7 linked regions of the Homo sapiens genome follow. The protein of the gene in region 2 interacts with the protein of the main gene of each other region in a pairwise test. Each region holds a gene or a part of one and is shown on either strand. Other genes may lie near its edges.

The links.
Region 1: the proteins of NCAPH2 (region 2) and MAL interact in binary tests that used the Homo sapiens proteins (3 or more experiments, as listed by UniProt).
Region 3: the proteins of NCAPH2 (region 2) and UBIAD1 interact in binary tests that used the Homo sapiens proteins (3 or more experiments, as listed by UniProt).
Region 4: the proteins of NCAPH2 (region 2) and TMEM14C interact in binary tests that used the Homo sapiens proteins (3 or more experiments, as listed by UniProt).
Region 5: the proteins of NCAPH2 (region 2) and CTXN3 interact in binary tests that used the Homo sapiens proteins (3 or more experiments, as listed by UniProt).
Region 6: the proteins of NCAPH2 (region 2) and TTC32 interact in a two-hybrid assay, tested with the Homo sapiens proteins (one large-scale study listed by BioGRID).
Region 7: the proteins of NCAPH2 (region 2) and DYRK1A interact in a two-hybrid assay, tested with the Homo sapiens proteins (one large-scale study listed by BioGRID and IntAct).

Annotation. Positions count from the first base shown.
Region 1 is NC_000002.12:95,024,294-95,028,507, reverse strand, and holds the start of MAL (myelin and lymphocyte protein), read right to left. Parts: upstream 2,801-4,214; 5' UTR 2,716-2,800; coding exon 2,623-2,715; intron 2,169-2,622; exon of another isoform or gene 2,075-2,168; intron 1,950-2,074; exon of another isoform or gene 1,479-1,949; intron 1-1,478. UniProt on the Homo sapiens protein: May be involved in vesicular trafficking from the Golgi apparatus to the cell membrane. Plays a role in the maintenance of the myelin sheath, and in axon-glia and glia-glia interactions.
Region 2 is NC_000022.11:50,521,724-50,525,223, reverse strand, and holds the end of NCAPH2 (condensin-2 complex subunit H2), read right to left. Parts: intron 3,484-3,500; coding exon 3,376-3,483; intron 3,239-3,375; coding exon 3,185-3,238; intron 3,044-3,184; coding exon 2,973-3,043; intron 2,882-2,972; coding exon 2,809-2,881; intron 2,727-2,808; coding exon of another isoform or gene 2,724-2,726; coding exon 2,655-2,723; intron 2,554-2,654; coding exon 2,504-2,553; intron 2,404-2,503; coding exon 2,302-2,403; intron 2,208-2,301; coding exon 2,058-2,207; intron 1,990-2,057; coding exon 1,849-1,989; 3' UTR 1,614-1,848; coding exon of another isoform or gene 813-1,613; 3' UTR 444-812; downstream 1-443. Other genes in the region: protein SCO2 homolog, mitochondrial precursor, read left to right, coding at 813-1,613. UniProt on the Homo sapiens protein: Regulatory subunit of the condensin-2 complex, a complex that seems to provide chromosomes with an additional level of organization and rigidity and in establishing mitotic chromosome architecture.
Region 3 is NC_000001.11:11,276,198-11,279,697, reverse strand, and holds part of UBIAD1 (ubiA prenyltransferase domain-containing protein 1), read right to left. Parts: intron 1,285-3,500; exon of another isoform or gene 825-1,284; intron 522-824; exon of another isoform or gene 423-521; intron 1-422. UniProt on the Homo sapiens protein: Prenyltransferase that mediates the formation of menaquinone-4 (MK-4) and coenzyme Q10. MK-4 is a vitamin K2 isoform present at high concentrations in the brain, kidney and pancreas, and is required for endothelial cell development.
Region 4 is NC_000006.12:10,728,849-10,731,627, reverse strand, and holds the end of TMEM14C (transmembrane protein 14C), read right to left. Parts: intron 1,014-2,779; coding exon 962-1,013; 3' UTR 501-961; downstream 1-500. UniProt on the Homo sapiens protein: Required for normal heme biosynthesis.
Region 5 is NC_000005.10:127,652,082-127,655,581, forward strand, and holds part of CTXN3 (cortexin-3), read left to right. Parts: intron 1-171; exon of another isoform or gene 172-280; intron 281-968; exon of another isoform or gene 969-1,110; intron 1,111-1,235; 5' UTR 1,236-1,342; intron 1,343-3,500.
Region 6 is NC_000002.12:19,896,131-19,898,983, forward strand, and holds the end of TTC32 (tetratricopeptide repeat protein 32), read right to left. Parts: intron 1,906-2,853; coding exon 1,739-1,905; intron 997-1,738; coding exon 857-996; 3' UTR 501-856; downstream 1-500.
Region 7 is NC_000021.9:37,488,773-37,492,272, reverse strand, and holds part of DYRK1A (dual specificity tyrosine-phosphorylation-regulated kinase 1A), read right to left. Parts: intron 2,722-3,500; exon of another isoform or gene 2,649-2,721; intron 2,327-2,648; exon of another isoform or gene 2,228-2,326; intron 2,099-2,227; coding exon 1,812-2,098; intron 1-1,811. UniProt on the Homo sapiens protein: Dual-specificity kinase which possesses both serine/threonine and tyrosine kinase activities. Exhibits a substrate preference for proline at position P+1 and arginine at position P-3.

The sequences.
Region 1 (4,214 bases), on a different chromosome or scaffold from region 2:
CACAGTGGCTGAACCATTTCACATTCCCGCCAGTGGCATACCAAGGGTTCCAATTTCTCCACATCCAATACTTGATGTTTTCCGTTTTTTGGATAGTAGCCATCCTAATGGGTGTGAAGTGGTATCTCATTGTGATTTCTTTCTTTCTATTTATTTAATTTATTTACTTATTAATTTATTTTTTTGAGACCGAGTCTCACTCTGTTGCCCAGGCTGGAGTGCAGCGGCATGATCTCGGCTTACTGCAACCTCTGCCTCCCAGGTTCAAGCGATGCTCATGCCTTAGCCTGCTGAGTAGCTGGGACTACAGGCATGAGCCACCCAAGCCGGGTTTTTTTTTTTTTTTTTTTTTTTTGTATTTTTAGTAGAGATGGGGTTTCACCATGTTGGTCAGTCTGGTCTCGAACTCCTGACCTCAGGTGATCCACCCACCTCAGCCTCCCAAAGTGCTGGGATTACAGGCGTGAGTCACCGCAACTGGCCTCATTGTGGTTTCAATTTAGTTTTCCTAATGCCTGATGATGTTAAGCATCTTTTTATGTGCATATTGGCCATTTGTGTATCTTCTTTGTAGAAACCTCTGTTCAAGTCCATTGTCCATTTTCTAATTGGGTTGTCTTTTTGTTGTCGAGTTGTAATATTCCATAATTAAAAAAACCTCTCGAGTAGCTGGGAGGCTGAGGCAGGAGAATGGCGTGAACCCGGGAGGCGGAGCCTGCAGTGAGCCAAGATCGCGCCACTGCACTCCAGCCTGGGCGACAGAGCGAGACTCCGTCTCAAAAGCAAAAACAAAAACAAAAACAAAAACTCTCCCGGGGTGGCCAGCGCCTTCTCAGGCCCTTTAATTCTCCACTCCTTCCACACATCAAATATATACAGCTTCGTATTTACAGTCCATGCAGAGGAGAACTGAGAGGCTTGGGGTCAGCTTTCTCCTCTTCTCTCCCAGGCACCTGCGAGCCCACCCCTAATCTAGAGCATGTGGAAGATGCCTGGAGATGACTATGCATTGCGGGTCTCCTGGGAAGTGAGGAAGGGAGGTGGGGAACAGGGGTGAGGTGGAGAAGTGACTTTCTAAGTCAGCTGAGAGAAGCGTTCTGGGCGAGGGGGAGTTGTTTCTTCTGGAAGCCCCGCTACCGGCAGGCCACAAAGCCACGCTGGAAGAGCAAGCTGCCAGTAGTAGATGGTTCCAAGGTTTCCCACGCCCCTGTAATTTCTGCAGCATTGGCGGGTTGGGTGGGAGTCTCCGGTCACCTTTCCCGCAGATCAGATCGCCCCGTCTAACTGGACTGTTCCTACTCTCAGGGGCACTCCTTCTTGTATGCTGAACTTCTAAAAGGAGGCCAGCGGGGGGCTGGCTCTCTGTAAACGGTGGGGCTGCGTTCATTGGCGTCCAGGGTTTCTTCTAAATGTAACTGCTTTGATTCCGCCTATCCCTAGGATTTCAAGTCACCGGTTCCACCCAGGTTTGGGTTCGACTGGACTTTCACCCTAAGTTCAATGGTAGCCCTGCTCCCAGGCCGCCGCAGCCCTCTTAGCCTCTGCCCGCAAGCCCTCTTTGGATGAACTGACCTGCTCCCTTTGGTATTCACACCCTCCCCCTCCAATCAGGCAATAACAACCTGGGGTCCAATTTTTAAACAGCCAGGCTCCGACATTTTCTTTCCCGCCCAACTCTCCACGCTGACACTTCTGAGGGTGGGGTGCCGGAAAAGGTGTCCCTCAGGCGGTGACGGACCGCACCCACAGGACATACAGGGCACACCCCTCCCAGGTGAAGGCCAGCGGCCCCCGGGGAGTTGAGGCTGAGGGAGGTCACTTCGGCTTCGCGACACCGTGAGCGCTTATCAGGAGTTCTCAGTAGGAAGCGCTTTCCTGCAGCCTCAGGCAGAGACCGTGCGTGCAAGGCGGGACCGACCGCAGGTGCAGAGGCCCCGGGCCTGCCCAAGGTCAGTCGAGGCGCGCGGATCGCTCTCGCCGCCACCCCCCACCCCCCACCCCCCATCTCCTCCACCCCCACCCCGCACACGGGGCAGAAGGACTGCGGCCAAGCAAACGATGGCCTCATTTCCAGATCGAATTGGTCGCAAATACGTTCCCTCGCCAGAAACTTTAAAAGGCCAGAAGAAAATAAACCGGATTCAGCTCCCTCTCATCTCCAAATCTCGGTTGGTAATACTAATGTTTCTCTTGCTGATTTTTTTTTCTTTTTTAACGAAACCTTCTCCCTTGTAAAAGCTGCGCACTTCTACCCAACCGCGCAAAGCGCGGCGGGAGCTTCGGTGGCGCTGCGCGCGTCAAGTGGGCCCCGCGCGCAGCTTTGGGACCAGCGAACCAAGAGCCGTCCCCCCCTGCCCCGCTGCCTACATCTGACCCCAGTTGGGAACCCAGTTTTTCCTCCATAGTCCTGTAGACTGTTCCCCTCATTCTGTTGGTCTAGAAGGGCACAAAGGACCGGAGGTGGGAGGGGACTTCCCTGGCTTAGTCCCCGCCCTGCGCCTGCTGCCCCGATGCTCCCAGAACCTGCGCAGCTAGCGGATCCCGTCCGACAGCTGTGCTGGGCGCCCGAGAGAGCGCACGGCTCAGCCCACCCCGTCCCTTCCCCGGCCAGGAGCCACTCACAAACTCAAAGATGAAGAGCAAGTCGGGCAAGGTGGTGAAGACCGAGAAGCCACTGGGCAGGGTGCTGCCCCCCGTCGCCGCTGCGGGGGCCATGACGGCGTGCTGGCGTCGGCCTTGGGACGGGACGAGCGCCGCTCAGACTCCGCGCAGACCTCTCGCTGGCTCCGCGGAGCCCAGTGGCCTGGGCGCCCCCGCGCGCGGGTTAAGAGCAGGGGAGCCCGGGGCAGAAGAGGGAGGAGCCCCGGCCGCCGCCCAACCCCGCCCCCCGCCCCACGCCCCGGGAGACCCGGCCCGAGCGCCGCGGGCACCGCCCTGAACCTCTTCGAGGCCCCGCTGCGGGCGTCCAGAGCTGGGGACTGTGGGTCTGACTCCTGCGTTCCAGCCGTGGGTGCCACCTCTTGCGGGAAGCAGGGCAAAACCACTTTGGTCAGGCGCTCCTCGTGCCTTTCTCCCTTCGTAGGTGACCAGCATCTCGTAAGAATGATAACCATCAGTAACCGGGACCCCAAACCTTCTCATCAAGGCACCTCTCGGGTCACCATTACTTTAACTTTGAATTTGGGTCTCCTTCATTTTTCCGCTGGATGCGTTAATGTGCGCGACCCACAGCTCCAGGCGGCGGTTTCCTGGCGGAACTGGACCACCGCCACAGGCTGGGGGTCTGCAGTGGGGGATGGGACCGGCCGCGGCCGCCGGCCCCTTCCGCGTCCACTGAGCCGGCGCTGGTTCGGCGCTGGGATCCTGCACCGGGCCTCTCTGCTTGGTGCTGCGCGTCTGCCTGAGAGTAGGAGGTTGCTCCCAGCTGTGCCGGCCCCAGCAGAAGGCTGCTGGTGGTGGTGCTGGGGCAGGTCGGCCTTGAATCCATGCGACAGGAAGGGACGTTACCAGAAGAGATTCATCGCTTTCTCTTGGTCTGGGCAGCCCGGGCCTTTTGAGGGTGGGACCGCTGCTACCCCCACCCCCAGGTTCTTTGCCTGCCTGTTGACTGCCGGTGTTTCATGTTTTGTTTCTCTGTTTCACTATTTTTTATTTTTTGCCTTAAAAAAAAAAGTATTACCATGCAGCAGTTGCCCATTTATTTTAATTTACTATTAATAGTGTGATTGCTGTGTTTCCTCCTACAAACACTGAAGCCTGAAATCCGCCCGAGTCCGGATTCTCGCCTGCCAAAAGGGAATTGGCCCCGCAACCTCCAGCTTAGACTCCCAACTCTTCTTTCTTTCCATTGGCAGCTGCTGCAGGCAGGACAAGGGGCTCCCCTTCTCTCCAGTGGGGCCTTCACCTCTCCCTGCTGCACAATTCTTCCTCCTTCCCAGTCCCTAGGGAGAGAAGTATATTCGTGGACGCATTTTCCAAAGCAAAAGTAGCACGCCCATCAGCTGGCCATTCTAAGTGCCTCTGGAAAGGGGCCAGGCATTTGAAATGAGAAAACCCCACTGTGCCTCTGTGAGCTGCCAGCCCGGACGGCTGCAACCAAGGTGCCATTGTGTCGGGTCCCCAGGGCAGCATCTCTCTGGACACAATGGGCTGTGGGACTTTAGGAGCCCAGGTCCTCATCCACCTTGGGCATCTCATAGCTCGTTAGTTGGACC
Region 2 (3,500 bases):
GCTGGCCTTGCTGGGGAGGGCACAAACCCAGAACCGCCCGGGCGGGGGTGCAGTGAGTCCTCGGGAGGGTGCCCTCAGCAGGAGGGGGCAGTGACCGGGAGTCCTGAGACCTCCACCTAGCAAACCTTCTGCGGGGGCCCGTGGGAAAGGCTCAAAGGTCACCAACGCAAAGGCAGGGCGTCGGCTGTGAGCCCGGAGGAGCTGCTGGGAAGCCTGGATGTGAGGAGGGTGGGGTTTTGTGGCGGGTGGAAGTGTCGTGCGTCTCTGCCAGGAGAGGTTAAACACAGCCGGCGGGCAGAGTCTGAGCTCCGGGGGTAGGTCGTGCAGGTTTTCTGCTGGGAGTGTGGAGGAAGGCCGCGGTTGGTTGAAGTGGCTGGAGGTAACAGGAAAGTGTTGGAGGAATCGGTTGCTCTCGGGGATTGCAAGCCAGAGAGTTACCCACCTCCTTTTAAGAAATGGGTTTATTGCAAATAGATAACGTGGTTAGTTCAGGCAAGGCATGCACTTGGAATGCTTTCCGTCAGCAAGAGGTTCACCTTGCTGAGGTGCAGGTGCAGGGCAGGGTGCGGTGACAGGCTGGTGATCCCAGGTAGAGGACAGGAGTGACAGGTGTGGTTGCCCAGGTGTGGATGTTTGGTGGAGGTGGAGTTCTGAGCTCAGGTGAGCAGCTGCAAATGCCTGTTAAGCCTGAACGTGGGCTGGGTCCTTCAGATGGGTGGCTGGTCTCAAGTCGCAGGGGCAGCCCAGGCACTGTCCTGGGCCTTCCCTTCTGGCTCCTGACGCCTGTGCTTGTTTCCAGGAGCATCAGATCCATGCTGCTGCTGACTCGGAGCCCCACAGCTTGGCACAGGCTCTCTCAGCTCAAGCCTCGGGTCCTCCCTGGGACCCTGGGAGGCCAGGCCCTGCATCTGAGGTCCTGGCTTTTGTCAAGGCAGGGCCCTGCAGAGACAGGTGGGCAGGGCCAGCCCCAGGGCCCTGGGCTTCGAACCCGGCTGCTGATCACAGGCCTGTTCGGGGCTGGACTCGGTGGGGCCTGGCTGGCCCTGAGGGCTGAGAAGGAGAGGCTGCAGCAGCAAAAGCGAACAGAAGCCCTGCGCCAGGCAGCTGTGGGCCAGGGCGACTTCCACCTGCTGGATCACAGAGGCCGGGCTCGCTGCAAGGCTGACTTCCGGGGCCAGTGGGTGCTGATGTACTTTGGCTTCACTCACTGCCCTGACATCTGCCCAGACGAGCTGGAGAAGCTGGTGCAGGTGGTGCGGCAGCTGGAAGCAGAGCCTGGTTTGCCTCCAGTGCAGCCTGTCTTCATCACTGTGGACCCCGAGCGGGACGACGTTGAAGCCATGGCCCGCTACGTCCAGGACTTCCACCCAAGACTGTTGGGTCTGACCGGCTCCACCAAACAGGTTGCCCAGGCTAGTCACAGTTACCGCGTGTACTACAATGCAGGCCCCAAGGATGAGGACCAGGACTACATCGTGGACCACTCCATTGCCATCTACCTGCTCAACCCTGACGGCCTCTTCACGGATTACTACGGCCGGAGCAGATCGGCTGAGCAGATCTCAGACAGTGTGCGGCGGCACATGGCGGCTTTCCGCAGTGTCCTGTCTTGAGCCACTGCAGTCTGGGCCCCATCATTAAACGGGCTGCGTTTAATCTGTGTGTGTGTGTGATCTGTACCAGCGGCCCAGGGAGGCCAGGCAGCCCTCTTCTCTGCGCAGGTGTACATAAAAGGGTTTTTAGGGGGAAGATGAGATGGCAACACTGCTTTATTAGGCCGGGCCAGCCAGGAGCAGACACACGGCTCCTCAGTACACATTCCCCCACCCCTGCCTCGGTGCTCCCCACTCAGGGCTGGGCCATGGAGGGGGCAGCGTAGGTCTGGAAGCGCTTGTGCGCTCGCTGGTGCGTGAGCAGTCTCAGGGACATGGTGTCCACGGCCATCTCCAGCCCGGGCTGCTGGGTTATCTCCACTGTGTAGTCATTGGCCTGCAGGGGTGGCACATCAGCAGGGTCTGGGGACCGTCTCCCCCTCCCACGTATCCCAGGCTACTCACCAGCTGCAGGGAGGCCAGCATGGAACGACACACCTCGAAGGCCGGCTGGCCAGCCACCAGCTCCGCAAAGGGACACCACTCATTGAGCTGGGGGAACCGTGAGACCAGCTGGTCCCCATAGGTGTGGATGTCAAAGGGCACATGCTGCTCCTGCACAGGGGAGGGGCATGTTGGCTGCGGAGAGAGGCAAGGCCCTGGACAGACCCGTGGCACACAGCTCTGGTTCCCAGCGGCCCCGCCTCACCTGCTCCTGGAGCAGAGGCTGCACTGTGTCCTCCCAGTCCCTGATGCGCTGGCTCAGCTCTGTCTCCTGGACAAACTTCTGGGAGGTGGCGATGAAGAGCTCCTAGGGGAGGATCAGCAGGAGCTACTGCCTCCCAAGCAGGGGCCTGGGCACCGCTCACCTGTCCCCCTCCCCTCCCCGTCTCCCTCTAACCCAGGCCTACCACATTCCTTCGAACCAGCTCCTCGTAGCTCAGGGACATCGGCACTGCGTCTGGGAAGGGGTAGCTGTGAGCTGGGCAGCTAAGGGGCCACGCTCTCCCCTGCCCCCAGCTCCAGTGGCCCCTCAGCACTCCTAGCCCGCTGCCCACCTACCAAGGTCAGCGGCTTCCCTGGGGTCTGCTCCCTCGGGCTCCATGTACTCCTCAGGCTCTAGAAAGTCATCTGCTGGGAGGTGGGAGAGTGAACAGCACGCAGGCAGCTAGTCGGCAGGTGCCAAGCCCCACCCCACCCCCTGGCAGGCACCCACCTGCTGCCCCCAGGTCTTCCAGGGAATCCTCCAGGTGGTCCTCCTCTGCAGGCCGCAGCCACTGCTCAGCCACCTGTCCAGAGAAAGCATCTGTGAGGGGCACTGTCACCTCCCATCAGGGCCACCACGGGGTCCTAGATCACAGCTGACCAGCTGGGACTTGCCTCCCTCCTCTGCAGCTTCCGGAGAGTTTCCAACTGCTCCTTCACGTGTGTCCAGTACAGGACCTCCATGTCTGCAGACAAAGGCCTTGTGAGGGCTCCCTCGTCCTTCCCAGGCCCCGTGCCAGTCCACCCAAGGCTTTGGGTGACACCAGGTGGGGGAAGAGGTAGGGGAAGGAGAGTAAAACTGTCTTCCCCGAGGACTTCAGCCTCACCTGCAAAGGACGGACCCTTTCGCCGAAGCCGCCTGCTGTCGGCATGGTCTGCATCTGTGAAAGAACATGCTCAGCACCAGCCAGGCCAAGAGCTGCCCACAGCATTGGGAAAAGGGTGCTGATCCTCCTCCACTGGCCCTGGCCCAGCCCCCAGCTCCCAGTGGTCCGGAGTGCACACCACACCCACTCACAGGCAGCCAGGTACCACTGGTGGAAGTCCTGCAGCTTGGCAGCGCCCTTCCTCTTGCGCTTCTGTCCCAGAGCCTCCTCCACACAGGGGGGCACAGAGTAAGGCCTACCTGGGGGCAAACAGGGA
Region 3 (3,500 bases), on a different chromosome or scaffold from region 2:
ATGCCTGTAATCCCAGCACTTTGGTAGGCCAAGGTGGGTGGATCACCTGAGGTCAGGAGTTTGAGACCAGTCTGGACAACATGGTGAAACACCGTCTCTGCTAAAAATACAAAATTAGCCAGGCATGGTGGCAGACGCCTGTAATCCCAGCTACTTGGGAGGCTGAGAATCACTTGAACCCGGGAGGCAGAGGCTGCAGTGAGCCGAGATCATGCCACTGCACTCCAGCCTGGGAGACGGAGTGAGACTCTGTCTCAAAACAAACAAAAAACAAAACAAAAAACCACGAAGTCAATTGCTTGCTTTTCCCCCAAAACTTGTTCTATCCCCAGCCTTGCCCTTCTCACATGATGACATCACTCCAGATGGTATCTTCCAGTTCTCAGGTCAAAACCTTTGAGTTATGCTTATGCAGCTATTGATAGGCAATGGTATGATTAACTGGGGCCTTAAAGATGATGAAGATATGACATTTACAAGGTGGACAGGCATGATTATTGGGCCACCAAGGACAAATTATGAAAAGAGAATATAGGCCGGGCATGGCAGTTCACACCTATAATCCCAGAACTTTGGGAGGCCAAGGAGGGCAGATCACGAGGTCAGGAGTTTGAGACTAGTCTGCCCAACATAGTGAAACCTCATCTCTACTAAAAATACAAAAAATTAGCTGGGTGTGGTGGTGTGCACCTGTAATCCCAGCTACTCGGGAAGCTGAGGCAGGAGAATCACATGAACCTAGGAAGCAGAGGTTGCAGTGAGCCGAGATCACGCCACTGCGCTCCCGTGTGGGCCACAGCGCGAGCCTCTGTCTCAAAAATAAAAAAAAAGAATATATAGCCTGAAAATAGAAAGTGGACCCAAATACCCAGAAGCTCCCCCATCAGTTAGATTTGTAACAAGAATTAATATGAATGGAATAAATAACTCCAGTGGGATGGTGGATGACCGCAGCACACCAGTGTTAGCAAAATGACAAAATTCATATAGCATTAAAGTTGTACTTCAGGAGCTAAGACGTCTAATGATGTCCAAAGAAAATATGAAGCTTCCACAGCCACTGGAAGGACAAACATACAACAATTAATTTTAGTGGATCTCAAACTTGTCTTATATCAACAACCTTCTACTCGTGTTAATGTCTTGATTAAATATCACAATGCAAAATACCCACACGTTAAATAAAAGAACTCCGGCTGGTAAACATGACCTGGACATTTGTAAGAATATATTTAATATATGTACACCCATTATGTTTTCAGGTAACAGGAAAAATGCAACCCAATTTTTTTCTCTTGTTAAGGTACTGTCATTTAAACATAAACTTGGAGTACTCGAAATATAATTCAGGTTTACAAGATGAAAGCGTGGTAAGAAGTGTCAGATGGCAGTGGAAGCATGTGTGTTTCTAAAGACTAAAAATCTCAATAAAGAAAACAGGGCTGGGCACAGTGGCTCATGTCTGTAATCCCAGCACTTTGGGAGGCTCAGGCGAGCAGATCACTTGAGGCCAGGAGTTCAAGACCAGCCTGGCCAACATAGTGAAAGTCCGTCCCTACAAAAAATCCAAAAATTAACCAGGCGTGGTAGCACGCGCCTGTAGTCCCAGCTACTTAGGAGACTGAGGTAGGATGATCGCTTGATCCCGGGAGGCAGAAGTTGCAGTGAGCTGAGATCGCACCACTGCACTCTAGCCTGAGTGACAGAGTAAGACCCCCATCTCAAACAAAAAAGGAAAGGAAAAAGAAAACAGAGGCCAGGAGAGGTGGCTCACACCTTTAATGCCAGCACTTTGGGAGGCCAAGGTGGGCAGATCACCTGAGGTCAGGAGTTTGAGACCAGCCTGACCAACATGGAGAAACCCTGTCTCTACTAAAAATACAAAATTAGCAGGGCGTGGTGGCCCATGCCTGTAATCCCAGCTACTTGGGAGGCGGAGGCAGAACTGCTTGAACCCCGGAGGTGGAGGTTGTGGTGAGCCGAGATCGTGCCATTGTACTCCAGCCTGGGCAACAAGAGCAAAATTCTGTCTCAAGAAAAAAGAAAACAGAAATGGCATGCTTTATCCATCTTGCTTAGTGAAAGAGAGCTGCAGTTGAAATTGTTTAAAAAGTAGCAGGTATTGGCCAGGCATAGTGGCTCACGCCTGTAATCCCAGCACTTTAGGAGGCCAAGGAGGGTTGATCACTTGAGGTGAGGAGTTAGAGAGACCAGCCTGGCCAACATGGCGAAACCCCGTCTCTACTAAAAATACAAAAATTAGCCAGGCGGGCACCTGTAATCCCAGCTACTGGGATTATACTTGAACCTGGGAGGCGGAGATTGTGGTAAGCCAAGATCGCACCACTGTACCCCAGCCTAGGCGACAGAGCAAGACTCCGTTAAATTAAAAAAAAAAAAAAAAGTAGCAGGTACAATGAACACTGTCACAAATGTGTTTGATTTTTTTAATTTTTTTTATTTTTTTGAGATGGAGTCTTGTTCTGTTGCCCAGGCTGGAATGCAGTGATGAGATCTTGGCTCACTACAACCTCCCAGGTTCAAGCGATTCTCCTACCTCAGCCTCCCAAGTAGCTGGGACTACAGGCATGCACCACCATGCCCAGCTTATTTTTGTATTTTTAGTAGAGATGGGGTTTCACCATGCTGGCCAGGCTGGTCTCGAACTCCTGAACTCAGGTGATCTGCCTGCCTCAGCCTCCCAAAGTGTTGGGATTATGGGTAAAAACTACCACATCCAGCACAAATGTGTTAATTTTTGAAGTGGTGTGGGTGCTGACTACTAGTAGTATGAAAAATATGTTCAGGATTGTTTTGATACCTATCTTATAATAAAAAATGTTGGGGGGGAGTTGATGAATTTCTGTTAAAAGCTGTTCATGTGTGTTACACGTAACAGACATGGTAAATATTTGCTTACAGTTTTTTTTTTTTAACAAACTATGCACTTAAGGTTAAGTGACATCAACAAAAAAGGGATACATATATGGAGATATAATTTTGAAACTAAAGTTGGTCTTTTTTTTTTTTTTTTGAGATGGAGCCTCTCTCTGTTGCCCAGGCTGGAATGCAGTGGCATGATCTCAGCTCACTGCAACCTCTGCCTACTGGGCTCAAGCAATCCTCCTGCCTCAGCCTCCCGAGTAGCTAGGACTACAGGCACATGCCACCACGCCTGGCTAATTTTTGTATTTTTAGTACAGACAAGGTTTCACCATGTTGGCCAGGCTGGTCTGGAACTCCTGATCTCAAGTGATCCACTTGCCTTGGCCTCCCGAAGTGCTGAGATTACAGGCATGAGGCACAGCACCCAGCCCAAAGTTAGTCTGAAAATGTAAATAAAATGTGGAATGTGTCCAAGAAAAAAAAAAACCTTTGAGTTATGCTTAATTCCTCTGTTTCTCTTTACCTCACATCCAATCCATCAGCAAACCCTGTCTACCTTCAAAGCATATTTAGAATCTGGCTACTTACCTCTTCCACTACCACCCGCTAGATAC
Region 4 (2,779 bases), on a different chromosome or scaffold from region 2:
AACCTCAGTGGCCAGGTACAGTAGGTCATGCTTATTACTCCAGTACATTTTGGGAGGCCAAAGCGAGAGGATCACTTGAGACCAGGAGTTTGAGACCAGCCTGGGCAACAGAGCAAGACTGCATCTCCAAAAAAAAAAAAAGTACATTAGCTGGGTGTGGTGGTATGCACCAGTAGTACCAGCTATTCAGGAGGCTGAGGTGGGATGACTGAACCCAAGAGTTTGAGGCTACAGTGACATATGATTGCACCACTGCCCTCCAGCCTAGGCAACAGAGAAAGACCTTGTCTCTTGAAAAACAAAAAAAATCCTCAGAGGTCATTTTTGAAACAAGCTTCAATGCAATGTACAATCAAATAAGTTTCCTTGGTCCTTAAGTTATTCAAAATAGGTAATTTCTAAATATTAACAAAATACTTTCATGTTTCTATATCTTGCTGCTAGCAATATCTCATTCTATGAACTAGACAGCTCTGGCAATGAAGACCCCATAGGAAATATTATTTATAGTAAACTTTATTTTCATTGATATTTCACTTAACATAATTTCAAAGTCAGTCTGTGGTCTAAGATGAGCAAAAGAACAGATATTGTAAATCTCCTAAAAGACTTTTTTTCACACTGTTCCTCAGAGCAGGGAATGGGGTTTCAGAGCCCTGAAAGCTGACACCTAACATTTTACCCTTGAGATTTACCTACAGATACAGAAAGAAAAGACAACATCAATATACAAGAATCAAGCTCTATGAGGGTCTTATTAAGCTCTTGTGTTACATACTCGCCACCTCTGTAGGTTTGTAATCATGACTGATTTTCCACCTCTCTGCCAAGTTTGGTGTCTTTTTTTTTAGGTAAAATGTCAGATGCAAAAATGCTGCACTTATTTCTCTTAATATATTGAAAATAGTGGAAGATGCAGATTTTTAATTCTTCATCAGTCTAAGCTGGAACATGACTTCTGCTAATGGGGTCTGTTGAACATACTAACTCCAACTTTGGCGACCATCAGCAAACTGTTTAAAAGAAACAAGATAGAAAATGTCAGGTAAAGGACAGAACAGGCAACTATGTTTTTAAGGAACTAAACTGCTGGTTCCTCACAACTGCGTGGGGGAGGAGGTACTAAGGCAAGAGTGGTCAGGGGTAAATTTCCATCCCTGGAGGAACCAGAGAAAAAGCAAGCCAAGGGAGTCTTAAAATAGCACACATGAGCTGGATCCTAACCCAACTGCCAATAATTTGAAGAGATGAAGAAATGGAGGCAAGAGAGAGCAAGGCCTCCCCACCATCACAGATCTGATTAATGGTAGACTCTCCAGCGTCTCAGTTTACTGCTCTAGACCTTGCTCCACACTGACTTCCTTGCTTCAGGTATAAAACATTATACTGGTAGCATCACAACTATGATCAGAGTATGTAATCTTTCTCCAAAACAGATTTTTAAAAATTCCCCTACCTTCAGGATGTCTTTATGATACTTAACTAAATTTTTTGTTTTTGAGAAGGTTTTTTATTTTTATTTTTTCAGATGGAGTCTCACTCACCTCTGTTGCCCAGGCTGGAGTTCAGCAGCACAATTTCGGCTCACTGCAACCTCCGTCTCCCAGGTTCAAGAGATTTTCCTGACTCAGTGTCCCAAGTAGCTGTGATTACAGGTGTGCACCACCATGCCCGGCTAATTTTTGTATTTTTCATAGAGATGGGGTTTCACCATGTTGGGCAGACTGGTCTTGAACTCCTGACCTCAAGTGATCCGCCCGCTCTGGCCTCCCAAAGTGCTGGGATTGTAGGCATGAGCCACCACACCTGGCCTACAACTAAAGTTTTGTTTGTTTGTTTGTTTGTTTTTTGAGATGGAGTCTTGCTCTGTCCCCCAGGCTGGAGTGCAGTGGCATGATCTCAGCTCACTGTAATCTCCGCTTCCCAGGTTGAAGCAATTCTCCCTGCCCCAGCCTTCCGAGTAGCTGGGATTACAAGTGCCCACTACCATAACCAGCTAATTTTTGTATTTTTCATAGAGACGGGGTTTCGCAATGTTGGCCAGGATGGTCTTGAACCCCTGACATCAGGTGATCCGCCTGCCTCTGCCTCCCAAATTGCTGGGATTACAGGTGTGAACCACTGTGCCCAGCCACAACTAAATTTTTTAAAAACCACAATTTGGTTTAGGTTTTATAATCAAAATTAGAAAACAGGGCCAGCCGCAGTGGGTCACGCCTGTAATCCCAGCACTTTGGGAGGCCGAAGTGGGCGGATCACAAGATCAGGAGTTCCAGACCAGCCTGGCCAATGTGGTGAAACACCATCTCTACCAAAACAACAAAAATAGCTGGGCATGGTGGTGCACGCCTGTAATCCCAGCTACTCCGGAGGCTGAGGCATGAGAATCGCTTGAACCCGGGAGGCAGATGGTGATTGCAGTGAGCGGAGATCACGCCATTGCACTCCATCCTGGGTGACAGAGTGATACTCCGTCTCAATAACAACAACAAAAAATAGAAAACAGGATTCAATCAAAATTCTCTTTTAGCAAAATTTTCTGTAAAAGACATCTACACATCTAAGAAATATGGGGCCCCCAAATCTTCCATGCAAGTCACACAAAAGGCTGCAGTCATGGCTTTGCACTAAAACTTCTGCCACCATATAGGGAGGAGTTTGGATGGACTGGAAAGCAAATATGAGAACAAACCCATTTCCACGGTGAATGGATATACTCATGCCATTTTGACATTAAACTAGCTATTGTTTTTGAAACATTTCCTATTAGTGTATATAT
Region 5 (3,500 bases), on a different chromosome or scaffold from region 2:
TAACTTTCAATTTCTGGCTGATTTTTATATTTCAGATTCCACCCATCAACACGGAGGCCAAGGAAAATTTAATGAGCCAAATAACTTATGGCTCTTCAAATTACAAGATCTGTGGGTTTTAAAGTGTCATTGTGACTTGAACTAGCTGTCTTTCTTTCAAACAAGACTTACTTCAAATGTGATGGTCCAGCACCTCAGTCCGGCTTGATGACTTGTGCTTTTGTTTTTCCTCTCTGCATCAGTTAGCTGGCACCTCGGGTTTTGAATTCAGTTCCCTGGACTGTAAGGGGTTGAAGATTTGATTTAACTTATATTTAAAAAGGCAATGATCCCAGAACAGCAAATAATTCCTCAAGGAGCTTATTGTGTAATAAGGAGGAGATAAACACTGTCAAGACTCGCACTGTAATCAGTGCTGCCACCGAGTACAGGTGATGTCTCTGGAGATGGAGTAAAAAACACCCCATCCTTGGTGAAGGGAAACAAAGAAGGCCCCACCGAGAAGTGGGTATTTGGTGTGAACCCTAAGGGAGGGAGAGATGGAAAGAAGGAGAGGAAAGATGCTTGCCTCATAGTGCTTGCCTCCCCTCCTCTCCACAGATGGAAAGAAGGAGAGGAGGCAAGTATTATGAGGTAGGAAACCTGGAGGTGTTAGAGCACAGCAGGTATTGGATCAAGCTGAAAAACAGACAAAATGAGGACATTCTCCACAGGTGTCCACAGACTCAGTTACACGGAAGTTTATTCTGATCAACACATTGGCCATTTTACTGAGAACTAAATGTGATTTGGTGTTGACTCCTTTCTAAACTTATAAAAATAAAACTCAGATCTTAAAAATTCCATTGTCAGCATAGGTCCTAATCTGTGGTCCGGAAAACATCTGGGCATCAGGCCCACAAGGGGGTTAATGGGCTGTGGACACTGGGGTGCAAAGGTTTTCTGAGGGGAAGAGTGGTGAGATCTGGGCTTAAAAAGATGAATCGAGATGCAGTGTGTAGGAAGCATGGGCAAGGGATGAGGAACGCCACTTTGAAAATTACTAAAACTAAAGCAAGTGACTAAGAGTGTGAATGACCCTGGCTGCAATGACTACGCCTGCTGGGCTTCGTAAGTAATTATGGGTGTCTTCTGTTTTTGTCAGTATCACAAGGGAGCTTGACTCGAGCAAGGGAATGTATTATATGACTTTTGAAAAGGGTATCTTTTAATTAAGGTTTTCTTTAATTTTTCAGTATTAAAATTAGACTCTATTTCCTGAGCACCCACAAATGGACCTGACAAAGGGAAGACACAGATGTACTGCGTGATGAGGAAAGCCTATCAGGATTAAAATATGGCTGTGAGTAACTGTGGTCCTTCTTTATACTTAAAATAGCTGCCATGTGTTATTATGAAGGCTTCTGATGGTGGTATCAAAATCCTTTGAAATAATAGACTTGCACAGATTTCCCTGGTCATCTAAAAGAAAGATGTCATTATTCAGTTAAAAGCAAACTTGCACATTTTCTAAGAATCATTTTTACCAAAAAGGGACATTTTACTGCGAGACAGACATTTAAAAATTTACATGTCTTGAGATATTTTTGTATTGTGGTAGCAAAATGATTACATTTATTTCTTTTTCTCCACCTTATAATAGCTGATGCTTCCTTCAACTTATACATGCTGTTGGAGCTTTCTAAATCGGTAAATTATTGATTAGCTGATTGCAGGTTTAAAATCAAGCAGACTCTTCCAGGGATTTCAATCAGTCCTGGGCAAAATTGTGAATTAGTCAGCATTGGTTTCTGGATCTCTTTATCCCTTTAGCAACCACCTCCTGATTGTCTCTACCCACCATCCCTCATCCCTCCCCTAGGGCTCTCCAGTGGGCCCCCTGTTCACACCACCATGCCTGTCTTCCTGTCCTGTCCAGGAGTCCCTCATTCCCAGCTAGGTCTTCCTTCAATCGCCTTTCTACTTACCACACTTTCCCCTCCTTCAGGTGGGAACGGTCCTCACAAATTCCTGCTAGCACATTAATGTGCCACTTTCCTAGGTAAAATATTGCAATTTAGTAGGAGACGTTGATACTTTGACCAAAAGCAGTTATTTTTATAGGAACTTGGGCACCACAGTGTGCTGGGAGAGGAGAGGATTACAACTCCCAATGTGCTACAGAGTTTTAAAAATTCTTTCACCTCTATTTGCTCATAATTTGGTATATCAGGAAAGGTTTGGTGATGAAGACATTGGAGTATACACATATTTATATTTTAGGAGGCTTCTCAATGCAAAGAGGGTTAACCTTTCCTTTGTACCTTGCCTTTTAATCAGTAGAGGATGGTAAAACTTCAAATTAAAACTGATTTTAAAAATCATTCTAATACTTGGCATCCTCGTGCAGAATCTGAGTCCCAGAGTCATTCCTAGGGTGACTGAAGAGGCAGATATGGCAGATAATCTGAATCAGGATGAATAAGTTATTTGCTGGAATTTCTGGAATGGTTGCCTACCACTGCAGCCCCCAAATGAATGGTTTGCTCGCTGTAAATCCTGAGTTGTGGGTGAAGCCTAGAAAGTATGAGAGTTGATCCAGGAGAGAAGGATTTGGCATTTGCCCTGTATGGAAGAGAAGGCTGGGGAAGACTACTCCTGGGGTCACAATGTTGCTCATCAAGTGGAGATCCCCGGTGGGAAGGGAGGGACTGAGCAAGGTATCACCGTCCTAGTCAGCCTGCTTGTGCTGAGGAGGTCATTCTCAAGGACTCAAAAGGTTCTCTATCTAGTTCTTACCTGAATTTTTGGATTTCACAGATCCAGAAATCCTTACATCAGTTATACAGTTAATGGTCTTTTCTCTTCTTATATTTCCTTTTTGGATTATATGGTGTTTTCCTAAAGAACTTTCTGAAAATGGCCAGGCATGGTGGCTCATGCCTGTAATCCCAGCACTTTGGGAGGCTGAGGTGGGTGGATCACCTGAGGTCAGGAGTTCAAGACCAGCCTGACCAACATGGAGAAACCCCGTCTCTACTAAAAATACAAAATTAGCTGGGCGTGGTGGTGCATGCCTGTAATCCCAGCTACTAGGGAGGCTGAGGCAGGAGAATCACTTGAACCTGGGAGGCGGAGGTTGTGGTGAGCTGAGATCGCACCATTGCACTCCACCTTGGGCAACAAGAGCGAAACTCCGTCTCAAAATAAAAAAAAAGACTTTCTGAAAATGCATACCTGTCTCGGCTTTGTTGAGAATGGACAAAGAACAGGACTCTGGCCTCATTTGGGCTGGATGGAAAAAGGGCATAGAATGAGATTCTGATAATCCTGCAAGGAGAGCAGGAATCAAAGTGAGAGGATCCTCAGTAGGATATGAAAAAGCAAGGAGTATGTCAGGGATGGCCTCAGCATCTGCTCCTCTGTCATCAGCGGGCTTTCCTTTGGCCCAGCCCTTGGAGAATTTTATATTTCATATGATTAAGTATAGTTTGAATATTTTTGGTGGACACAGATGGCCC
Region 6 (2,853 bases), on a different chromosome or scaffold from region 2:
TCAATATTTAAATCTTAACCTATTTTTATCAATGATTACTTGAGAAAATCAAGTGTAATTCAAGCTGAACTCTTTCAAATTGTAGGACATGTTTATTTTTAAGCCTAAATGTTATGTCTCTCTAGCCTAGCTATATAAAATAGCCTTTCTCTCAAAGCCAATGCTAGGGCAAGAAAATGGACAGGGGACTAGATTAAAAGAACTGAGAGAAACATAAAAAAAAAAAATGCAATTGAAACCTGATTGGCTCTAGATCCAAATAAAAATCTACACACTTTGGAATATGGGCTGGATATGGCTGACATTACAGAATTATTCATTTTATTAGGTATTATAATGGTATTGTGGTTATAAAGGAGGATGTCCTCAATCTTAGAAAATGTAGGCTGAAATATTTAGGGGCGAAGTACTGTGACCTCGTCACCTTATTTTCAAATGTTTCAGCAAAAAGTTATATATTTAAATAGAAAAAGCAAATGTGGCACAATATTAACAACTCATGAATTTAACTGAAGAGTTTATTATACTTTCAACTTTTCTGCAGATGTAACATTTTTTAAATAAAAAGTTGAGAATAAAAAAATCACAAAAATAGTTTTGCTGAAGAAAATACCACACATTCCTTTTTACTATAATATTTAATATAATAATATACACTTATACATTGGTATTATTTACACTTCATTAAAAAAAACCCATTCAACCTGAAATTAACTACCTTAAACACACTATTTAACTTTCAGTGCTAATGTATTAATTTCTTAAATATAAATCAAAATAGCTCAATATCTAAATTACTGATAACTAGATGCAGATGTAAGGATCATGAATCAATACTTCCATTAAGTTAAAAATATCAATAATTTTTTGCAACATTTCTTCTTTGTTTTTCTTCTTTGTCTAGAATAGTCTGTTTTAAGCTCAAAGTAGCATCTTGAAATCCAGGATTTAAGTCTAAGACCTTCTTGAAATCTTCCAAAGCATCATCAAAATATCCTGTACCAGAACCCAAAAAATGGAAAAGAGAAAAGAAACCGAGTATTTCTATATATTATTCATGGAAAAGCTTTGATACATGTACTTTTGCTTTTATATTTATGAGCTTTCAGTCACTTCTAGTAAAGGAATCTTTTTATCTTAATAATATAGAGATGTGTATATCAAAGTAATTTTGTGTGCCCTTAGGGAATAATACACCTAAAATTAGCTATGGGTTTATTTATTGAGATTTAACAGGTAAATATTATCAATCATCTTAAAATTTTAATAAAACTGTATCACCTGTTTTACATAATTGCAGTAAAATTAAGAAACGGGAACTAATTTTCTTTTTGACACTTTAAATGAAGAAACACTACCTATGGTCCCTTTAATCCAAGAATCTAAACTTCACTTTCTATTGTCTTGTGTGTCTTCAAAGATTTTAACTCAGAAAAGTTTCACAGGTGAACATCTGAATTGCCCTCATTTCACAGCTGGGAATGCACAAGCACAAAGTAATGGGGTCACCCCTGCTCCTGCGCCCAGGTCCAATTCCCACCCCAGTGCTCTGCTGTGATCTATAACGCCTATCAAAAGCCTAAAATAAACTCAGGGACACTTCCTTTGTTCCAAGCTCTAAACCTAAATTTCACAGAACTTTAAAATTTGATTACCACGTTAGTTTTACAACATTTGAAAGCTCTGAAATAACAGAATACAGTCAATGACAAAACTCAAAAAGAAAAAAAATTCTTACCCAGCCTATACAGTATCAACCCTCTGTTGTAATATGGAACTTCAAAATTGGGTTGGACTTCTATGGCAGATGTGTAGTCATCCATGGCTTCATAAAAATCAACCCTGAAGTACTTGATTTGCCCCCTGTTGTTATATGCAGTAGCCAAATCCTCAGGGCTGCATTTGCTTTAAACAAAAAGTTCACATTAAAAACACCGTGTTACCAAATTCCTCTCATTTCCACTTTCATTCTCTTTTGGGTATTGTCAAACTTCACAGCCTATAACATGCAGCATCAACACTGAAAATCCAAGCTGAAGAAAAAACGTACAAATAAAGAGCTAAAATCAATTTTTGTTTAACCCTGTTATCTACTTTTGTAGGGTTATACCACTGCAATGTCAACCTGAAAAGCATACTAACTTTACAGTGTGTTCACTGCCAATTTGTTCTGCTGAATATAACATTAAAATGATTGTTCATTTTTCTAAGCACACACCAGCAGGGCAAAGAAGACAGAACAGATAAATACTAAGCAAAGAGGGAAAGCCAGCCCAAAGCCCGAGTTTGCTATGGATATGTCACAATGTGAATCAATTTCATTCTCAAATTTTTAAGTGATCTTAAAACAATAAGATTTGAAATCATTTTCCACCAATAAAAAACTAAAGTTAACGCTAAGTGAAAATTCAACATGCTACGATCCCCAGGAAGTTATCTCTGGGGACAGAGTTGCCCTCCCTCCAGCCTCAGCTGGCATCCTCCCCAATGCCAGGCTGGCTTCCTGCTAGGAGGGTGGGCTCCTTTAGACCCCCTCAGGGCTCCAGTCAATTTTGATGTCCTTTGTGCAGAACTGGCTCTGCACCTGAGGGAACTAGAGGTTGCCCAAAGAGCTTTAAATTAGCAGCCATTCCTGGGCTGTACAGCCAGGTAGCTCTGACCAGCCACCAGCTCAACAGGTCACAGCCCCTGGCTGCCTTGAACCTTTCTCTGCACAGGACAAATAGTCTGCACAGAGAACATTAGTGCCTCTGCTCTGAGTCAGGGATGATTCTGTTTCCCTTTCTTTTTTCCCAAAGCAATTCTCAAATTAGAACCAAACAGAGAATTCATCTGTCACTTCTTTGTAATACC
Region 7 (3,500 bases), on a different chromosome or scaffold from region 2:
TGAAATTTTCTGTGGTTCCCACTGAAACCTCCAGCCAAGTCTTCGAGAACAATCTCAGGCCTCCACAGGTAGGTCAACCAACCTTAAGGAACTATGAGAAGAAAGTCTAATTTAAAAGAACTGGGAAGAAGTATTACATTTCCATGGTTTTTATAAGCCAATACCATTGTTAACTCCCTAGGCCCAAACACTCACCACTCCTGAGACTTTTATTTCACAGCTTATGCCAAGAACTTTGTCACCTCCCTATCTAATTTGTTTAAAGCAGTTGCTTTCCCCAAAACACACTTGCCCTACCACCTTCTGATTCTAATCCAACAGATCTAGGGGCAGGACCACTGCAGGTCTATTTTAGAAATAACTTCCCATGTGATGCCAATGAACTTGAATAGTTAAAAACTTATTGTAGGGATAACTGGCTCATTTTGGCTAGACAGAAATAATAATGTTTAATATTAGGACAAAATACATAATTTGGCTTAAATAGGGGGAAATTTTCCCAACTCTATAATCTATTCAAATTACTGTCAAGATGGGCATGTATTTTTCATTCACAATATACTCTACCACATATTAACTACGAGCATCTCTTGATTTTTTGAAGGCATCTAAAACTGCAAACTTTGCTCCCTACTCCAATTTTTAAAAATTACTTTAACATTTGATAGCCTCACTACCATGAGAAGTTGCAGAAAATAACAAAAAGACAGTCCTATTAATTGGCTATAAATCCTTATGATTAAATTAATCTGTTATAGTTAAAACCTGGACAAAAGTAGGACGGGACAGAAAATTTCACTAATTTGGAAAAATAAGAAACAGAAAAGTCAGTAAGAAAAATTAACATCTGTATGTTAGCCGGGTTTCTTTAAAACAGAAGAAATATAGTTTCAATACTTAAAGCAAAAAGAATAGTGCTTAAAATGAGTAAAATATTATCAAATGGTGACACTAATTCCTTTCAAGAGGAGACCCCTATCACTTCTATTTTATACATAAAACAATGCTGTTAGAGTAGTTTTCATAATGCTGGAAGAATGACAGGAAAAAACTGCTTTCCTAAATCAGCTAAACTTATCAGCACTACGAACACATCTGTTTTTAGCAGTCTGAAAAAAACCAGCTTGGATATGTGTCAGAATTTATGTAAATTTTAAATAAGAGTGGGGAAAATAAGACAAACTTATTTATCAAAACAAGTAAGTCTATCAACTGAATTTTCTATACTTATACCATGACTAATGCAAAATTACCTGCATTTTTTTGAACCATCAGTTTTTGAGAAAAAAGATTTATCTTGATCCATCTTCAGAGAAGTATTTTACAGCAAAGATTCAATGTTCTAGTACTGGAAAGTCCCAAAATTTATACTAAAACCTTTACTTGGGAAATATAGTTACAAATCCCCTAATATTTAATCATTCCATCTCCTATTCTCTCCCTTAATCTTTTAGCATACATACAATTTTAAATATACCCATTTCAAAAAAATCAATGTCTTTTGACTCAAAGTATTGCTATTTGCATTTTAAAAGGTATTTCCCCAAAATAGATATCAACACAAGGTAATTAAGTGCTACATTTTAAAGATAAATAAGCATCCTGTAATTGCCTCTAAATGGTATACACCTTATTAACATTTCAAATATCTATTAGGTTGGCGCAAAAGTAATTGCGGTTTTTGCCACTGCAAAAACAGCAACTGCAATGGCGAAAACCGCAATTACTTTTGCGCCAACCTAATACCTACACTGTCCTACCTACTTCTATTTAATTTCTATTTAATTCACAAGTTCTGAAATAATACTTACCCTCTGCCCCAACTGACAAGAACTGCCAAAGTCAACTATCTTGATTGCACTGCGTTTGGGGTTACAAAGAAGGATATTTTCAGGTTTTAGATCACAGTGAATGATACTAAGTTCTGGAGTCGCAAGGAAAAGCAGTGCAGTGCACATCTGTTGCGCAAACTTTCGTGTTAGGTTCAAAGAGACCCCTCGGAAATTGGTGTTTCTCAGCAAGTCATAGAGGTTGTAGGACAGCATTTCAAAAACTAAACAGAGATGGTTTCGAAACATAAAGTGGCGTTTCAAATGCACTGAAAGAGAAAACAGTTTCATTTTAAATTATATATACCAATAAACTGAGAGTAACAAACACATGCACTCTCAAATGTTCTATAACATTATTACATCAAATGCAGAGTTCAGTTAAAGTTTGGAGATCAGCATTTTGTAATAACAGCAGTTTTCAATCAGTTAAGAATATCTAAGTTGCTCTTCTGCTGAATTAAACAGGTACAGCATATGTCGGTAAGTGATATAAGGTAAGCAGTGCTACCAAAATGCCTTGTTTCTCTAAAAGTCAGATCTGAAAACATAAGGACCAAATGGACAAACAGCAGTGAGAATATTTCAGCAATTTTATCTTCATTTATAAAAGAAAGCACTTTTTACTTCCCGAGAGCCCTACCTCACAACTTCCTATGTCTAAGCTCCACCTACTGGGATCTCTGGTTTGTGACAATGCTGTAGTTGGCAGCCCTCTGTGTAGGCTTTGAAATGTATCTGCACTGCTGAACTTTAGATTTCACTGGTAATTTTCTGTCACAATTTTCATTGATAGCCTTTTTTTTTTTTACCCTTTAGGCAAATACAACAAATGTCTGAAAATCATGCTTTGGTAAAAGTATTGGAGGACTTAACTGTGTTTATCAAATTGGTAAGTGACAACTCTTGTGTGAGACTGAAGGTTTGGAAAACTTCAAAATAAAGCTCAGCTACAAGAAGAGATGATAAGGAGGCTTGTGAGTGGGGAAACAGCATAGAATACATAGGTCGCTATCACTGTTGACCCTCTAAAAAGGCTGAATACTCACTAAATTGCCTCAAAGATTGTGCTTTAACTATTAACACTGACGTCACATCAGATGAGGTTATTCGATAAAGTGCTGTCCCTCCCTGTTAAGTCTTATATATACCAAACTGAGCACCTGTAACACAACTGCAATGACATAAAACACCCATCTGTCAAGGTGATTTTCATTTTATCTTATAGTATTACAAAATGAGAGGTTTCTCTACAGATCTATCTGGAATAAACTGATAGTAATCAATGTCTGATCACTAAGAACTGTGGATACATTGTGTTTTCCTGGGAATAGTCCTGGGCTGCCTGCCTCAAAGCAGTGAACATCAATATTGCTTTTAGATCTTTCATGGTATAGGTGATCTAAAGTTAGAATAAGTAACACAATAAAAATAACTACATGGCTATATAGGAGTCTACAGCACAACTCGATACTAAAAATAACAAAAGGAATCCTTAAATGTTACCTAAGAATGTAAAATATCTGCTCTTAGTCACTTCAGTTTATAGGTTTAAAACTAAAAACATAGTTCCATGATACCTCACAATCATGGTCTGTGGATGGCTTTTAATCTCCTGGTTAAGCAGGTGCCACTAAATGAATGCAAAAAGTAACTGCTGTCAGAATTCTA